2 linked regions of the Homo sapiens genome follow. The protein of the gene in region 2 interacts with the protein of the main gene of each other region in a pairwise test. Each region holds a gene or a part of one and is shown on either strand. Other genes may lie near its edges.

What was found. The genes of interacting proteins can lie anywhere in the genome.
Region 1: the proteins of DCBLD2 (region 2) and MALL interact in binary tests that used the Homo sapiens proteins (3 or more experiments, as listed by UniProt).

Annotation. Positions count from the first base shown.
Region 1 is NC_000002.12:110,105,823-110,109,322, reverse strand, and holds part of MALL (MAL-like protein), read left to right. Parts: intron 1-3,500.
Region 2 is NC_000003.12:98,794,211-98,798,858, forward strand, and holds the end of DCBLD2 (discoidin, CUB and LCCL domain-containing protein 2 precursor), read right to left. Parts: 3' UTR 1,731-4,648; downstream 1-1,730.

The DNA of each region.
Region 1 (3,500 bases), on a different chromosome or scaffold from region 2:
CTTATGTGTTAGGTGAGTCTCCTGAAGGCAGCAGAGGGTTGGTGAGTTCTTATCCATTCTGTGGTTTTGTGTCTTTTAAGTGGATCATTTAGGCCATTTACATTCAATGTTAGTATTGGAATGTGAGGTACCATTGCATTCATCATGCTCTTTGTTGCCTGTCTACTTTGGTTATGTTTTTGCTTTTTAATTTGTATTTTTGTTTTATAGGTCCTTTGTGATTTATGCTTTAAAGAGGTTCTGTTTTGATGTGTTTCCAGGATTTGTTTCAAGATTTAGAGCTTCTTTTAGCAGTTGTTGTAGTGGTGTTTTGGTAATGGCAAATTCTCTCAGCATTTGTTTGTCTGAAAACGACTATATCCTTCCTCCATATATGATGCTTAGTTTTGCTAGATATGAAATTCTTGGCTGATAATTGTTTTGTTTGAGGAGGCTGAAGATAGGTCCGCAGTCTCTTCTAGGTTGTAGGGTTTCTGCTGAGAAATCTGCTGCTAATCTGATAGCTTTTCCTTTATAGATTACCTGGTGCTTTTGTCTCACAGCTCTTAAGAGCCTTTTCTTCGTCTTAACTTTGGATAACCTGATGACAATGTGCCTAGGCAAAGATCTTTTTGTGATGAATTTCCCAGGTGTTCTTTGTGCTTCTTATATTTGGCTGTCTAGGTCTCTCACAAGGTCAGGAAAGTTTTCCTTGATCATTCCTCCAAATATGTTTTCCAGGCTTTTAGAATTCTCTTCTTCCTCAGGTACGCCAGTTATTCTTAGGCTTGGTCGTTTAACATAAACCCAGACTTCTTGGAGGCTTTGCTCATATTTTCTTTTTTTTTTTCTTTGTCTTTGTTGGATTGGGTTAATAATTCAAAGACCTTGTCTTTGAGCTCTGAATTTCTTTCTTCCACTTGTTAAATTCAATTGCTGAGATTTCCCAGAGTATTTCACATTTCTAAAAGTGTGTCCAAAGTTTCCTGAATTTTTGACTGTTTTTTCTTTAAGCTATCTATTTCCATGAATATTTCTCCCTTCACTTCTTGTATCATTTTTTGGACTTCCTTTGCATTGGGCTTCACATTTTTCTGGTCCCTCCCTGATTAGCTTAATAACTAATCTCTTGAATTCTTTTTCAGGTGAATCAGGGATTTCTTCTTGGTTTGGATCCATTACTGGTGAACTAGTGTGATTTTGGGGGGTATTGAAGATCCTTGTTTCGTCATATTACCAGGGCTGGTTTTCTGGTTCCTTCTCATTTGCATAGGCTCTGTCAGAGTGAAGGTCTAGGGCTGAAGGCTGTTCAGATTCTTTTGTCCTACAGGGTGTTCCCCTGATGTAGTATTCTTCCCCTTTTCCTATGGATGTGGCTTCCTGTGAGCCAAACTGCAGTGATTGTTGTCTCTCTTCTGGATCTAGCCACCCAGCGAATTTACCTGGCTCTGGGCTGGTACTCTGGATTGTCTGCACAGAGTACTGTCATGTGGAATGTCTATGGGTCTCTCAGCCATGGATATCAGTGCCTGTTCTGGTGGAGGTGGCAGAGGGTGCAGTGGACTCTGTGAGGGTCTTTAGCTTTGGTGGTTTAATGGTCTATTTTTGTGCTGGTTGGCCCCCTGCCAGGAGGTGACACTTTCCAAAAAGCAGCAGCTGTAGTAGTATGGAGAGGGACCAGTGTTGGGTGGAGCCCTAGAACTCCCAAGATTATATGCCCTTTGTCTTCCACCAGAGTGGATAGGGAAGGACCATCAGATAGGGGCAGGGCTAGGCATGTATGAGCTCAGACTCTCCTTGGGTGGGTCTTGCTGTTGCTGCTGTGAGGGGTAAAGGTGAGATTCCCAAGTTACTGGAGTTGTGCACTTAGGAAGATTATGGCTGCTTCTGCTGGGTCATGCAGGTTGTCAGGGAAGTGGGGGAAAGCTGGCAGTTACAGGCCTCACCCAGCTCCCACACAAACCAAATGGCCAGTCTCACTCCCTCTGTGTACCCCCCAGCAGCCCCAAGTCTGTTTCTAGGTGGAGGGCAAGATGGGTTTGAAAACTTGCCCCAGGCTATCCTCCTCCCCAGCTTCCCCCGGTGGCTGCATCTTTCCTAACAGTAGTACAGTATCAGAGCCCAGAAGCTGCCCTTGGTACTTGGGGGCTCCACTTTTCTCACATGTGTAGATTCAGGGAATCACCACTGCATCAAGGCACAGGACTGCCACTCACCACAAAGAGCTCCCTCGTGCTACCCTTTCAGGGTGCACCCCCTACCCTGCCCTCCCTCACCCCCTCCTGAACAAACCCCTGAAAACCACAAATTTCATTCCTACAATTTTGTTATTTCCAGAAAGTTATATAAATACATGAAATCACACAGTATATGGGTCTTTGAGGTTGGCTTCTTCCACTCAGCCTAATGCTCTTGAGCACCATCCAAGCTGTGGCCTATGTCAATAGCTCCTTCCTTCTTACTGCTAAGTAGCGTTCCGTGGTCTGGCTTTGCCGTCATTTGTTTAACCATCCACCTATTGAGAAACAGTTTGCCTGTTTCCAGTTCTTGGCCGTTCCAAATAAAGCTGCTGTGAAAACTTGTGTGCAGGCTTTTGTGTGGGGGTAATGCTCAGTTCTCCAGGGAAAATGCCCCCGTATGATTGCTGGGTGGTGTAGTAAGTGTACGCTTTATTAAGAAACTGACAAACTATTTTCCAGAGTGGCTGGAGAATAACTTCTGTGTTTTACATCCCCACTAGTGATTGATGAAACTTTATCAGTAAAGTTCATGTTTTATGTAGTTTACTGGTGAATTTAGATTTCTTATTTAAAGACAATATTAATTTTGAAACATAATCTCCAAGTGCAAAAAAGGTTTGAATGGGTGAATTTTAAGATGAGAACAGACATCCATTTATTTTCTCTCTCCTTCATGTAGCAAGTGTGTGTGCCTTGGGGGAGCCTGGGGTGGGTGCGGCTCACACCCGTGCCCTGCTCTGGAGCCAGCTGTCTGCGGGTGCTGGGGGCTGACCATGCCATTACCTGTATGATACGAGGTGACTCATCAGCTTTTTTATAAGCTGAATTTTATAAGCCGAAGGGTGGAAGCTGCAAGCTCACCCAGGGTGACTGTGAACAAGGAAATGCTTTATGACTATGACTCCAATAAATTATTTTAACTGTCAACCTTGTCACTAGTTGACTTATGAGATTTTTGACTAGTTTAAAACAAACAGCTAAGATTTCTAGAGGTTCAGAAAGTTAAAAGCGGAGACCATGCAAACTCTTTGTTTGATGTTAGATGTTTTCCTTTCAGCTGCTTAACTCACCAGCACATTAGTCAGAGATAAATCCTCTGAGCCCTTAGAAGTTCATCCTGAGCTCTTCCAGTTCGGCAAGTTCATTGTATGTCTTACCCAAATGGCCAGTACCACCTTCATTCCAACCTGCTGCTGCTTCTACTCTGTTTATATGGAAGAGCCTGTCTGAAGCTCACTGAAGCCAGGGGCTTCCCGGGAGCCCCCTAGGGCCAACTCTCTG
Region 2 (4,648 bases):
TCTAAGTTCATACTGGTTTAATTAAGCTCTCTCCTGACAACCCCCAGAATTAAATGAACCATGATTGTGAAGAGTAATTTGGTACAATGAAGGCAGTGTTTGTTTTTAAGTTAAAGGAAATGGGCTAAACATAAAGTTCTTATTAGATAAGTAAATAACTAAAGAAAGAATACAATTACTAAACTCTGATGGCTTTGTATTATTTTAAAGAAATGAAGTTTAACTTTATACAGTGAAGCTAAGCTAGGCAAGCTCAAGAAGGAAAAAAAAATCTTGAACATTATTTTTTTTTGCCTGACTTACTTATTCATTAAATTTTGAAGGTTTTCCACTTGAAGTAAATTAGGAAAGGTAAAGAAGATAACAGAACAAGTAAACACTTAAGAAAAGTCAAGCTGAGGCCGGGCAGGGTGGCTCACACCTGTAATCCTAACAAACACTTTGGGAGGCCGAGGGAGGCAGCTGGATTGCCTGAACTCAGGAGTTCAAGACCAGCCTGGCCAACATGGTGAAACCTCATCTCTACTAAAATACAAAATAATTAGCTGGGCGTGGTGGTATGCGCTGTAGTCCCAGGTACTCGGGAGGCTGAGGCACGAGAATTGCTTGAGCCCGGGAGGCAGAGGTTGCAGTGAGCCAAGATCGCGCCACTGCACTTCAGCCTGGGTGACAGAGTGAGGCTGTCTTCTAAAAAATATAAAAAGTGAAGTTGGGATTTTTGGATTTAAATGGTACAAAAAGAATATCTCATTTTCCCATGATTAAAGCTAATCTTCAGATGGAAAGCTTGCCTGGCTACCTAGGGTGCACCAGAGAATCTGATCCAATGCAAGCCAGTCAATCCTACAAATGTGGTGAGCTAGTCTTCCTTCCTATATTTTAATAAATGTAACCAAAGGCCATCTGGAGGTAGGGGAATGAGAGGTGAAGAAACAGAAAAATAGAGGTTATAAGGATGGAACTAAAAGTTGTCAGAAGAGGTATGAGCTGAAGAAAGAATTACTCTCTTTTGACCAATAAATACAATTGGGAAACACTGGAAAACCATGGCTTGATTACTGACAACCAACCTGCCTCTCTAAAGAGGGTGTATAAAGGGTGAAATACATTAGATTTGGCTCAGAAACAGAATGCGGTACTTATAAAGCAGAATAAAGGGGAGAACAGTAGTAGTTGATCTAACCCAGATTAGACATGAATACCAGCATATGTTTGCAGAGTCCCACAGTTTTGATTCCTCTTATAACTTTTTGAGGTGCAAAAGGAAGGTACCAGAACTGGAATCACATGTAATCAATCAGTGTGATTTTCCCCTCATACCACACAGCCATAGGCTGCAGTGTGGCTGCTGAAGTTCAATTGATATAAAGTAAATCAGGCTTCAAAAAGAATGGTGCTGTGGGTACACAAGGACATAAAGATGGGAACGATAGACACTGAGGACTGCGGCGGGGGGAGCGAGGGGAGCGGGGAGGGCAAGGGCTGAAAGACTATGTATTGGGTACTATGCTCACAACCTGGATGATGGGATCATTCATACCACAAACCTCAGTATCACACAATATACCCATGTAACAACCTGCACTCTGCACATGTACCCTTAGAATCTAAAATAAAAGTTGAAATTATTTTTTTAAAAAAAGGATGGCGCTGGTCATAGAAAAAGTCAAAGTAAACTAACAGTGTCATTTTCAAATGTTGCTGGAAGCACAATATTGGCCATAAATTAGTGAGGTTAAAATAGAAGAATCTGGCATTTTATAGTATAAGGAAAAGCTACAAACCTCAAGGTTGTTTTATTTAAACCAAATAATCTGAGCAAGACATATATACATTAAAAACAAATGAACACATTAAAATTTCACTATTTTACAATCTAAATTCTAGCAACATATACAAATACTGAGTGACTACAGTACATGCCGAGGTAAGATAAGTACATTCTGGGAGAATATCACTGACGCTCAAACCATTTTTATTTCCAATATGTATTTCAATACATGTTTGTTTCCACTTTTCCCAGTGCCACACACACACACACAAAAACAAAACAAAACAAAAAAAAACAGTCACAAGTTGGATTACATTAGAATTGGTGCCACAGTTGACTTTAAAAGCATTTTAATAACCACCCAACTCTTAGATTTTGCAGTTTAGGGACTTCAAGTTCAGAACCAAAAAGCAGAGAATCGTTTCATGTGACATGATGTTTCTATAGACCTCTTGCTCTCTAGGTGACAATGCAGAGCCAGGGCAAAGGTGTTTAAGCTTTGTCACCTTCCACAGCTTTGTGGCCACATTCATATTTAGATAAGCTCGGACTCTGCTCCCCTCTTCTGGAGATGGGGAGAGGCAAGTGTGTATGTGTTGTCATACTTACTGCATTAATTCTTCACTCGAACCGTTTACATCAGCGAATAAACCCATTGTTCAATGCAAAGTGCAAACAGTGAAACATGAACTTAAATAAACTGGACTAGACCCATCACATCCAACAGGATCTATTTAGATTTACAGCATTTAATAAAGTATAAGTCAGAATTCACAATATCTTAAACTGTGCTGTTTCCTAAGATCAAGTAACAGCCAAGTCAGTGTAATTTTATGAAACCTGTAATGGCCACATTTGTTGTGTCTCCGATGTATTTCTATAATTGCATTAACAGGAAAAAACTTAATCCAATATACCAGTGACTTTGAGTCTTAAATGTTGCAAGCAAAGGATAAAAATTCAAGGGAATTTTGTCAGATATGGTTACTTTCACATTTTCAGTTGTTACTTGATTGTCTCCAAAGCCGTATATGTATCAGACATATAAATGTAGTAAAAAAAAAAAAAAAAAAAATAGAAAACCTCTACTATAAAAACCAATGAACTAAAAAGAAGTATAAAGCAGAAAAACCATTTGAATCAGGCTCAGCTCTTCATCTGGAAAGTAAAGTTTATATAAAAGTAGTAAAAACTAGATATTTTATAAAAATTATTGGTAGTTCAAGGATAGCACAGTGGCAATATGAATCGAGTCTTAAAATATGCATCATTTCAGAAAACACTTGCCCCTCTTAAAAAAAAAAAAACCCAAAACTAAACAACAACAACAAAAACCTCCAGGAAAAAACAATCAGGTATACACAATTAACACAAGAATAGCAAACTTCTTTGGGAAAATGAAATAGTTACCAAAAACATCTCTCTTAAAGCTTCAAACAGGTATATTACTTGAGGAAAAGTATATTCTCTGTGTACTAAGGATGAATTAAAAAATCAACTGGTTTGCTCTCTTCCCACCTGAAAAGGGATGACTGCATTAATATATGTGCTTTCCACATCCATATATGTTTTAATAAAAGTCTACCATCTATGTCTTTTGTTTCAAACATTTTGAAACAAAATATGTATTGATTCTTCAATGAATGAAATCACGCCTCAAAGTTTGGAGAAGGAAAAGCCAGTGAAAATAAGGCCAAAAAACCATACCACAAAAGGACAGGAAGCCTGCAGAAATAAACAGTTCTCTTTCTGAAGCGATGTTTTAGAATACTGATATAATTCATGGAAACAAGAAAACAAATACTGTTCATCTTTATTCAAATTGAGTGAATTCTGGCAACATCATAATCTGGTGGCTCAGGCCAACAGAAGTGACTAGAACTTTATGGAAAAGTACTGTTCAACATTAAATCTACAAACAAAGGTTTATGGAAGAGGGAATGTCAAATTTATGTATTTTTATCATATGGTGAGCTGCTCATGTCGTCTTGACAGTCTGAAGGCTTTAAAAGATGGTTTTACATTGTTAGCTAATAAATTACAGATGATTTCTATTTTGCCATGTCTAAAACTAGCTCTGGGCAGGTATGAACAAGTGGTGACATGGAAGCTGCCAGGAGGTATCAAAAACAAGGCATGAATATTCATTTGCTAGTAAGCTATAATGTCTGTTCCCTAGGTGACATATAGGACTACTCAAACCTCTTACCACACAAAGTGCACGATCACGCAGTCCTGAAAAATACACGTTAGGTTTATATTTTGTGTAACAGTTTATGGAAAACTGAAATGAAAAATTATTTTTTCTGACTAAAAATATAAAATACCTTGAGACTCAAGAAAAATGTATATGTTTGTGAATGTATAAAACCAAAAAGGACAAATTCTGGTTACTTTTTAAAGAGGTAATTTATATTACTTCTGAGTGAATAATTTTGCCTTTCACTGTGATAAATATAAGTGGGTCATGTTTACAGTATTCCCTTAGAAGCCTTCAACTTTTCATAACTCTCCTAGGAAAAATCCCATTGCAAATAAAGTTGGGGGTGGGAGAAGAATCTCCTTTAAAGCTTTCAAATCATAAAGTTGTTCCTGTTTACACATTGAGGAGCATACTTAAAGGACATGAAGGGATCTGAATTCATGAGACTAAGGCAAGCATCACTCATCAGAAATACTCAAACATTTTATAAACACAAGAATGGGGCAAGACACCAAAGGGCCTCAAGTGGAACACGCAAGGATGAGACCAGGCCATATACTGTGAAGCATTAAAGCTCTAAAGAGTGTCACAAAGTGAAAAAGCAATCCCCCTGCTCATTACAAGTCAGAAAATCCCAGCTACAGATCTTAAGATGGATAAGTGGATATGGCTGC